2 separate regions of the Homo sapiens genome follow, and region 2 is reported to be linked to region 1. The links are microRNA targets in miRTarBase. Many come from high-throughput screens and were not tested one by one. Region 1 holds a microRNA gene; the other region holds the end of a gene's coding sequence.
What was found. Region 1 holds the annotated microRNA hsa-miR-199b-3p (ACAGUAGUCUGCACAUUGGUUA, at 3,414-3,435, opposite strand). A microRNA usually pairs through its seed, bases 2 to 8, with sites in the 3' UTR of a target mRNA and lowers its output. Matches are read on the target gene's strand: a 7mer-m8 pairs with bases 2 to 8, a 7mer-A1 pairs with bases 2 to 7 and ends in A, and an 8mer does both.

Region 2: the mRNA of SYNGR2 is a reported target of hsa-miR-199b-3p. Seed matches in the 3' UTR shown: 7mer-A1 at 4,070-4,076.

Annotation. Positions count from the first base shown.
Region 1 is chr9:128,241,332-128,246,401 of GRCh38, forward strand. MIR199B (microRNA 199b) reads right to left here and starts at 3,499; the gene lies at 3,390-3,499. DNM1 (dynamin 1) reads left to right here. Exons shown (of 22, transcript NM_004408.4): 15 at 901-1,014; 16 at 5,063-5,070. It overlaps MIR3154 (microRNA 3154), which reads right to left and starts at 3,699; the gene lies at 3,616-3,699.
Region 2 is chr17:78,171,266-78,176,325 of GRCh38, reverse strand. It overlaps SYNGR2 (synaptogyrin 2), which reads right to left. Exons shown (of 4, transcript NM_004710.7): 3 at 4,677-4,816; 4 at 3,606-4,587. The coding sequence ends at 4,390. It overlaps TK1 (thymidine kinase 1), which reads left to right. Exons shown (of 7, transcript NM_003258.5): 5 at 708-797; 6 at 1,157-1,276; 7 at 1,376-2,235. The coding sequence ends at 1,567. Among named protein-coding and RNA genes, the nearest start is that of SYNGR2, 5.2 kb to the right of the region's middle. RefSeq lists enhancers at 514-563, 1-564, 574-693, 714-893, 1,704-2,003 and 4 more.

The DNA of each region.
Region 1 (5,070 bases):
TAGAATCCACAGGCCCTGGACCGTGGCCATGGCTCTGGACAGTCCTGGGGACAGCTGCTTCCTGCCATGAAAAGGGACCTTAGCTTGTTACTCTAGGCACTTTGTGGCTCAGCCCTTGCCCCTGGGGACCTGGAGCCAAAGACCCTTAGAACCGTACTATCATAGCTTTTATTTATTCATACTACAAATATGTATTGATCACTTACTATCTGCCAGGCCCTCTGCAAGGTGCTGGGATGTACTAGTGACCAACAGTTCATGATTTAGCAGGGGAGGCTGCATCGACAGATAATCACACACACGCACGTAGAGAAGTTAATTAAAAATCGAAGCCCTTGTTACAGAAGTCGACTTCAGGGAGTGATCAAAGATCATTATGGGAATCCTGATTTATACTGGGGGACAGGAAGGGGCTGCCTGAGAATGTGAATCCTGAGCTGATACTCAAAGGCTGAGTAGGAATTTGCCAGGCAAAAAGGAAAAAGTGCTTTCTAGGCAGAGGCGGCAGCAGCATGTGTAAAGTCAGAAACACATCTCAGAACAGATGAGACCTTAAGCTTCCAAGACTCGCAGTTGGCTTCCCCAATCGGCCCCATAAACTCTGCTTGCATACTTTTAGTGACAGGGAGCTCATCCCCTACCCAGGCCTCCAGTCCCTTAACTCGGCCAGGTCTGCCTGTCAAAGGCTCTTTATCCTGAGCTGATCTCTGCCTTCCTCTGTCTTCCACTCTGTTCACTTGTGGTTCAAACCAAGGCAGGTCTGGCCCCCACCCTCCCTGACTGCCAGGCCTCAGAGAGCTGGGAGAGGGGTGGGGTTTCGAATGCCTCTCTTTGCCTACCCCATCCCCCATGGGGAGGCTCAGGCCCTGTCCACTGACCTCCTGCCCCATCACCCTCCAGGTCATCCGCAAGGGCTGGCTGACTATCAATAATATTGGCATCATGAAAGGGGGCTCCAAGGAGTACTGGTTTGTGCTGACTGCTGAGAATCTGTCCTGGTACAAGGATGATGAGGTGAGTCAAGGGCCAGTGGTCATCAAGGGGCTGGGCTGGTGGACAGAGTCAGGCTCAGACCCTCCCATGGGCTTGGAGTGGGCTAGACCATGGAATAGGGTTTTAAAATGTCTCGTCAAAGATCCGTGGGCAGGCTGGGTGTGGTGGCTCACACCTATAATCCCAGCACTTTGGGAGGCCGAGGCAGGTGGATCACCTGCGGTCAGGAGTCCGAGACCAGCCCGGCCAAAATGGTGAAACCCCATCTCTACTAAAAATACAAAAATTAACCAGGTGTGTTGGCGGGCGCCTGTAATCCCAGCTACTAGGGAGGCTGAGACACAAGAATGCCTTGAACCCGGGAGGCGGAGGTTGCAGTGAGCCGAGATCGCACCATTGCACTCCAGCCTGGGCAACAGAGTGAGACTCCATCTCAAAAAAAAAGGATCCACGGGTGGAGTTGGGATGCAAGGGTCCAAGGCAGGTGACCCTGGGGGTTCAGGGGGAGGCACCCTCTCACCCAGGTTGGAAGGAGAAGGTAGCTTGGCAGGACTGAGGAGCCTGGGGCTAAGCGCCCTGGGGAGGGTGGGCAGGGGACTTGGGTGCCCCTCCCTGACCCTGCAGCCCAGCAGCCTTCCTGTTTTCCCGCTGCAGGGCGTGCCGCCTCCTCTGTGGCCCCCACAGGCCCATGACACACACAAGTCTAGCTGCCAGACACCCGGTTAACCCCTGCACCCCAGTCCCCTAGACCCCTGCAGTCCAAGGGAAATGACCAGGGTGCCCTCAGGCTGAGGGGCAAGGAGTGTGGGGGCCCTGCCGAGGTGCCACAAAAAACCCCTCCCCGCCCACTAGGGTGCACAGAAGCCCCTGCCACCTCCTTCCCCTGTTGCTGGTCTCCTTTAAGAATGAGTCTATTTGGCTTTCACATCTGGATTCCAGAGGTGACCAGAGAGAATGGGGAGGGCTGGGGGTGGGCTTGTGGTAATGAACTCCAGCTGGCCAAGGAGTGGGGGAAGGGACCCTCTTCTTCCTGAGGGGGCTGTTGGAGGCTACAGCATCCTCAACGGGGGAGCGGGGCTCTGGGTGGGGCCTGTGATTTTGGCCTCCAAGCCCCCTCCCAGGTCCCTGTCTCCTCCAAGTTTGTCCTGGGCAGGGGCCCCAACTCTCCACCTTGGGAGGGGCCCTCTGTCGTCACTGGCGGGGGCGCCAAGCCATCTGGACCTCATTACCCCAACCCTGGCCTCCCCCACCATGGGGGCCCCTGGAAGGGATGGAGTGTGCAGTGGCATGGGGTGCGGGTGGGGGGTGGCTTCCTGCCGGTCTCTCTGCAGGCTCCCTAGATGCCCCCATGGGTTTGGGGTCTCCCATGTTGAGGTTCCTTACTCAGGGCCAGGGAGACCATGTGACCTGGGGCTGAGGGCCGGAGACCGGGTGACACTGTGGGGGAGGGGCACGTGCCACTGAGGGGGTCCCCTGATCTCATGCCTGAGCCTGCAGGCCTTTCTGGAGCTTTTGTGTACATCTGAGTTAAGTCGTGTGCGAAAACAGCTCTGAGAATCATATGTGGGGAGATGGGAGTCAGCTGTGGGCTGTGGGTGCTGGGAGGCGGGGTGTGTTTGTGTGTGTGTGTGTGTGTGTGTGTGTGGCTTGTGGGTCTGGTGTGTGGGTGTTTTTTAGGAGTGTGATTGGAGTATAAGCATCTAGGTGTGTTTGGAATATGTGGTCTGCATTTGCATCTGGGGGTGAAATCTGTGTGCCTGGGGAGTGACTCTGGGCACCTGCCTGTGCTTGGGGTGTAAAAGCAGGTGTGTGTGGGGAGGGGGCTCTAGGAGGGAGGGTGTGAGTATGGGGTGTTTGAGAATCTGTGTATGTCTTTGGGATGTGAGGATGGGGGGAGTGTTCCAGTTGTGAGGGTGTGTATGGGTGTGTGTGCATGCACTTGTGTGTGTCCGTGTGGGACATGGGTGTGAGATTGAAAGTGTGGGGGTGCTCATGTGTGTGAGTTCTGGGGCTGTGAGTGTCAAGGTGCGTGTGTGTTGAATGTGAGTGGATTCTTGCACTAGGACCACTGGGGATGTGGAGGTGGTCCAGGCTGGTGGGAGAGTGGTCTGTACTTCTCTACTCAACCACCAGCCCTCAGGTTTTGGGGTGAGGGAGGCTCTTTGGGCAGACCGGCGGCTGCCCACATCCCCAGTCCCCATTGACCCCCCCATCCTCTCAGTCTTCCTCGGCCACCCTTCCCCCATCACCGCTACCCCCAACCAGTCCCACACAGGGTGGCACCCCCATCCATCTGTGCCTCCTCCCAGCCCGCCCTGTGCCCCAACCCCCTGGCTCCAGGCTCCGGTTCTGGGATGGCAGGCAGGGGTCGGTCCAGCTCTCCAGTGGCGGCGGTGCCGAGGGTCTAACCCAGCCCAGCCTAACCAATGTGCAGACTACTGTACAATTTGGGAGTCCTGAACAGATAGTCTAAACACTGGGTAGACGGAGTGGAGGTGTCCTCTGGTCCATCCAGGCAGCAGTGTCTGTCCATCCGGTGGGCGCTTCAGCCCCATCCCCTGGAGATCCGAGAACCCCCCAACCCCAGCCTGTGTCCCCCTAGCCCCAGACCAGCCAGCCCGTGGTCCCCTCTCTGCTCCCAACTCCCCTTCTGCCTCCTTTGACGTGGCAGGGGTGAGCGGGAGCTGGGGCTGAGAAGGAGGGGCCTGAGGAGGGGGCCGGCCGGCAGGAAGGGAGGGGTGGGGGGAGGAGGCCGCTCCTACCTAGTGTCCAACCCCGAAGCACAGGGCGGGTGGTGGCGGGGCCTCTCTCGAACGGTTCCAGATGTTCCCTGGCCGTGTGTGCAACTTCCTCCTCTCCTCCCCCAGCCGCCCTCTGGGGCTCCCGGCCACCCGCCTGGCATAAAGAGGGCTTTATGTGGCTGCATGGGCCAGGGGGGCGTTGGGGGCAGAGAGGGGTGGGCGGGATGACGCCAGGACGGGGGAGCAAGGTCCCCCTAAACCCAGCCCCCCACCTGAGATCCTAGGCAAGGCTCATGCCCAACCTCTTTGAGTCCCCGAGGCCCACACAGACGACCCCCGTGAACAAGTAGGGCATGGGTGACAAAAACCCCTCCCCTCTCCCAGAGCCCCATCCTGGGGTACCTCCTCCCTAGATCCCTGAACCCCTCCCCTGGGACACAGCAGCCTACATACACATGTGCCCACACCGAGCACACACATGGGCCTAGCACCCCACACGCCTGTGCACAGATACACATAACTCCTCCCAGACAGCTCTAGATAAATCAAACACACAGCCCATTGTACCACGGTGTGCAGGTAAGATGTGTACCCCAGTATAAGTCCACAGGCATGGCTCTGCAAACATGTAGGCTCGCACAATTGCCACACACATCCACAAAGTGTGCACACATCCACACTGAGATGCAGACACGCTGACACCGACACATGGTTCATGCTGGGCACCTCCCCAGATACACATGTGCACACACACACAATAGCTGATAGGATATGTACTTGGGCTTGCATGTGTTGGCACAAACACACAACTACACACATGTTGCACACACAGGCACACCATCTCCAGGCTTGTGCTGGCTGCCTTATTGCTAACACATGGGGAGCTCGGGGGAGTGGGCTGAGCCGGCCCTTTGAAGCCGCCGGGTCTGGTGGCCCCCCTTCCTGGTCTCTGCAGTCAGGAAATGAAGTCAGAGGCGGCCAGGCCGGGGGTGAGAGAGGCCTGAGTGTGCGGTCCCTGCCTGAGGCTGGCCTGGCTTGTATCCAGGACTTGCCTGGGGAGGGATTTTGGGAGCCACTCTCAGCCTCCCCACCCCTCACCAGCCCCCTGGCCCCCGGCATATATGCAGAGCTGGTAGGACTGGCTCTGCGGGGGTCGGCGGTGCCCAGGAGGCCTACGGTCCGTGGCCAGGCTTTTATCTAGCTGCACCTTCGCAGTGGGAGGGGGCTGATGCTTAGAAGCCCTGGGCCAGTCAGGGGGACTCTTAGAGAGTGAGGTGTGGCAGAGAACAGTGCCAACCTCACCCCATTGCTCCTACCTGCACCCACAGGAGAAAGA
Region 2 (5,060 bases), not on the chromosome of region 1:
AAGAGTGATATGATTGATTGATGAGAATCACCAGAGCACTTGCCAGAGTTTCAGCTTCTCCCTGGGCCAAAGTGAAGTTTGCTTTACACAGTAAATGTGCTCTGTGCAGGTCCTGAATTTAGAAGGCTGTGCTGTGTCATCCTGCTCTGTAAATGGCCAGTAGGACCCCCGCCCCTTCTCAAGGCACATTACCCGTTTAAAACGGGGGAGGCAAGAGCACAAAGCGCCCACCTATTCACCGAAGAGCATGTATATAACTTAGGGCCTTCCATCCTTAAACAACAGGACCTTCCTTGCTCTTAAGGAAAAGGAAACAGGTTCAGAGACGTTAATTCATTGCCAAGGTCACACAGATAATGGGTCCAGCGAAGAGTGGTGTCCGAGCCCAAGGCAGCAGGCCTTTGGCCACTGCAGTGTTAAACAGCACAGCTGGTGTGGAAGTCCGGTGCTGAGTCCTGGGTACCTGGACTCGGAGGGAAGCTGGCTGCAGGGGGAAGGGGCTGCGCAGTTGTGGATGTACCTGTCGTCTGCTGGGGGGCGTGCGGGTGGACACAGTCCCCCGGCCTGGGGAGCCTCGTGGGAGAATTAAGAGTTACTCCGGGCCAAATGGCCGGAGTTGTCAGATCTGGCAGCGTCTTCGCTGGGGCTCCAGGGAGCTGCTGCTGGGGTGGAAGCTCTCACACTCTTTCTCCACGTGCCCTTTCCAGTTCCCTGACATCGTGGAGTTCTGCGAGGCCATGGCCAACGCCGGGAAGACCGTAATTGTGGCTGCACTGGATGGGACCTTCCAGAGGAAGGTAAGGCGTCTGATCCAGGTCTGGAGCTGGGATTGAGGAGGGCAAGAGGCTTCTGGATGGGCACAGAGACACCAGCTCTGGGTGACCAGGGCTCAGCCACCACAGGGTTACGGCCGAGCTGCTCAGGCCTTGGCTGAGCCAAGGGACTCCATGGTCTGTGCAGACTGCGTGCCATCTGTTGCGGCAGGTGCTTTGAATTGGCAAAGGGACAGAGCCGGGCATGGTGCTCTGGGGGTTGGGGGAAGGACTAAGGTCAGAGCAAACTCTCCTGGCTTCAGTGCTTGTGAATCAGAGGGTTTAAAAGAAAAACCCACCTGGTAAGGTGGCTGAGCGCCCTCTGTCTTTCCATGGGAGCGCAGCCATTTGGGGCCATCCTGAACCTGGTGCCGCTGGCCGAGAGCGTGGTGAAGCTGACGGCGGTGTGCATGGAGTGCTTCCGGGAAGCCGCCTATACCAAGAGGCTCGGCACAGAGAAGGAGGTAGCTCCACCTGCCTTCCCTGCAGGCCGGCGGGGTGGGGGTATGGCTCTGCCTCCTTCCTGTCCTGGCCCTTCACCCATCCCCTGTCCCTGCGGCCAGGTCGAGGTGATTGGGGGAGCAGACAAGTACCACTCCGTGTGTCGGCTCTGCTACTTCAAGAAGGCCTCAGGCCAGCCTGCCGGGCCGGACAACAAAGAGAACTGCCCAGTGCCAGGAAAGCCAGGGGAAGCCGTGGCTGCCAGGAAGCTCTTTGCCCCACAGCAGATTCTGCAATGCAGCCCTGCCAACTGAGGGACCTGCGAGGGCCGCCCGCTCCCTTCCTGCCACTGCCGCCTACTGGACGCTGCCCTGCATGCTGCCCAGCCACTCCAGGAGGAAGTCGGGAGGCGTGGAGGGTGACCACACCTTGGCCTTCTGGGAACTCTCCTTTGTGTGGCTGCCCCACCTGCCGCATGCTCCCTCCTCTCCTACCCACTGGTCTGCTTAAAGCTTCCCTCTCAGCTGCTGGGACGATCGCCCAGGCTGGAGCTGGCCCCGCTTGGTGGCCTGGGATCTGGCACACTCCCTCTCCTTGGGGTGAGGGACAGAGCCCCACGCTGTTGACATCAGCCTGCTTCTTCCCCTCTGCGGCTTTCACTGCTGAGTTTCTGTTCTCCCTGGGAAGCCTGTGCCAGCACCTTTGAGCCTTGGCCCACACTGAGGCTTAGGCCTCTCTGCCTGGGATGGGCTCCCACCCTCCCCTGAGGATGGCCTGGATTCACGCCCTCTTGTTTCCTTTTGGGCTCAAAGCCCTTCCTACCTCTGGTGATGGTTTCCACAGGAACAACAGCATCTTTCACCAAGATGGGTGGCACCAACCTTGCTGGGACTTGGATCCCAGGGGCTTATCTCTTCAAGTGTGGAGAGGGCAGGGTCCACGCCTCTGCTGTAGCTTATGAAATTAACTAATTGAAAATTCACTGGTTGGTGGACGCACATTTCTCTTTCACCTGGGTTTCCCTGGGTCTCATGGACAGCTCCAACTTGATTTGGGTGGGGATTTTCTTCCAGATCTTTTTTTCTTTTGTTTTGAGACAGGGTCTCTGTCGCCCAGGCTGGAGTGCAGTGACGCAATCCCTGCTCACTGCAGCCTCTGCTTCCCCAGTTGAAGTGATTCTCCCCCGTCAGCCTCCCAAGTAGCCGATATTACAGGCGTGTACCACCACACCTGGCTAATTTTTGTATTTTTAGTAGAGACGAGTTTTCACCATGTTGGCCAGGCTGGTCTCGAACTCCTGGCCTCAAGTGATCCACCTGCCTCGGCCTCCCAAAGTGCTGGGATTACAGGCGTGAGGCACTGCACCTGGCCCCCAGATCTTTCTGTAGTAATACTGATCTCTTAACCACAACCCTTGAACTGAGAAATGATCATGGGGTGTGTCCTAAGCAGAACATCATCTGCCTTCCTGTCTGGGCCAGTGTCAGGACAAAAATGGGTGTACAGAGGAGCCCGGGGCCCAGTTGGAAGGAAGAGGCACTGTCCTGCCCGCTGGGCCTGTGAGGTCAGGTTTTGTTTGTGAAACAAACTCTTGGTAATTCAGGAGTCAAGACATCTCTCAGCTGTGCCTCAGAGATGGGCTGTTGGCAGCTCACTTGGGGGCAAGCATCGCTGGGGTAAGGTGTGTCCTGTGCAGGCAGGGTCACCACTCCCAGGGCCTCCCCAGCCTCCCTCTCCCCTTCGCTAGTGATGTGTCCCAAGCCAAAGCCATCGGGTGAGGCTGGGAGCAGTGCCCTGTTAGTTCGTACTGGGGATTTTTAAACAATCGGGACTTGCCGATGACAGCTCCCTCTGTCATTGCTCAAAAGAAGAAGCCAGAAGTTGCTTTAGGGCCTTGACCTCTTCCAGAGATGGGCCTTATCTCCGAGGGGTGGGCTGGACGGCCAAGGCCGTGTCCCAGGAAGGCTCCAGAGGTGCTGACCCTGGAGGAAGGTAGAAACCTGGTCTTACCTATGGTACCCCTATTCAGTGCAAGAAAGGGGCATTCACCGACAACTCCCAGGTACCCCCACCCCCACTCTAGGAAGGGAGCAGCAGGACCCTGGCACTGCAGGCCAGAAAAATCATCTTGTTTACAAGCTGAGCACAGTTACTATTTTAAGATGTTGATGAAAGGCTTGTGCGGAATGCGACCCCAGACAGAGGGAAGGGGGCCAGCCAGGCAGGCTGGAGGGGGCGGATTGCCACTGCCTTGTTCAAACTACAAGTTCCATAAAGCCAGCCCCTAAGGGTGTACCCAGAGTGGAGTCTTCCTCCAACCCCTAGGCTGTGGCTCAACCAATGACTGGAGACTGAATGAGAAAACATTTATTCCGTCTCCAAACAGCATCCCAGGCCGGGCATCTCCCCCACGATTTTATAATACACTCGGCACAGACAGAGTCTGGGAGCCATGGGGCACCCCTGCCCTCCCCAGGCTTCCTAAGTAACAACTGCAGAATATTTACATAAAGCTGGGTGTTGTCAGGCAAAGCCCTTCCCTGCTGCCAGGGGTGGGAGCAAGGAGGAAGTGCCATGAGCACCAGCCCCGCCCTCACACCACGGGAGGCAGCCCAGAGGCCACCGGCACAGGGTGGTGGCCCCCAGATCATACAGCAGTGGGCACAGGGGAAGCAAACCTGAGTGAGGACACAAGAGCCTGGTCCGGCTCCGCTGCACAGGGCAGGTGTGATGGCCCCCACGAGTCTTTGGCAGAGAACGCAGATAATAGCGGCTCCCACGGCCTGACCCGGGCCGGGGGGAAGCTGAGGCACTTGTCAGTAGCACATGGGCACCTGCTGGCTTCTAGCCACTGCAGGCGGGGCTGAGGTCATTAAAAGCGAGGAAAAACACTAGCTAAAAACCCTTTCCTAAAAGTGCCCTGGAGGAGTGAGCGGCTGACTGAAGCCCTCTGGGCACAGGCACTTGGGGTGTGGCTCTGCCAGCCCCCGCCAGGCTATGAGGCTCCTTAGCTGTGTGTCAGCTGCACAGGATGGAACAGGTGAAAGAGAGGGGCTGGCAGTTCCAGGAGGCTCATGGGAAAGTCCAGGGCAGAGGGGAGGGCCCTCTCTGTCCCCCTTCCCACGCTAACCGCCGCTCAGTACACAGGGGGCGGCTGGTAGCCCTCGGTGGTCTCCGCGTTCTGGGTGAAGGGTGGCTGTTGGTAGTTGTCCACAGATGCACCTGGGTAGGAGGCGTAGGCAGTGTTGGGGTCCGGAGTGGGGTCAACGTAATTCTGGATGAAGTCGTCCACGCCAGCCTTGTAGCGCTGGTAGGCCAGGGAGGCCAGCACACCCTGCAGGGGGAGCACAGCAGGGTACAGGTGGGTGGGGGACCCCACCCTCCACCACCCTTGACCCAAGAACCGGCCCCTGGCCATCCTACCCAGGAGAAGATGGAAAAGAAGCTGAAGGTGATGGCTGCCCTCACAGAGTCGGCCCCCACCAGCACGTCCTTCGGGTTGGTGACTGCCCACTGGTTGGTGAGGAAGCAGAAACCAACAAACCACAGGAAGGTCCAGAGAGCTGGGGGAGGACGGGTGAAGCGTCAGTTCCATGGAAAGGGAGGGGCTTTCCAGGACTCTGGGAGGGGACGCGGGCAGGTAGGGCAGGGACCTCCCGGGGGAGCCTCCACACTATGGAGGGGAGGACTTGGAAGCCGGGCCGGGAGCCACCTCCAAAGTCCCCCACACTCGGGCCTTGGCAGGGTGGGCCACAGCAGACAGCCTAGGGGACAAAAGGGGCAGAGGCAAAGCCCATCTGCTCGGGT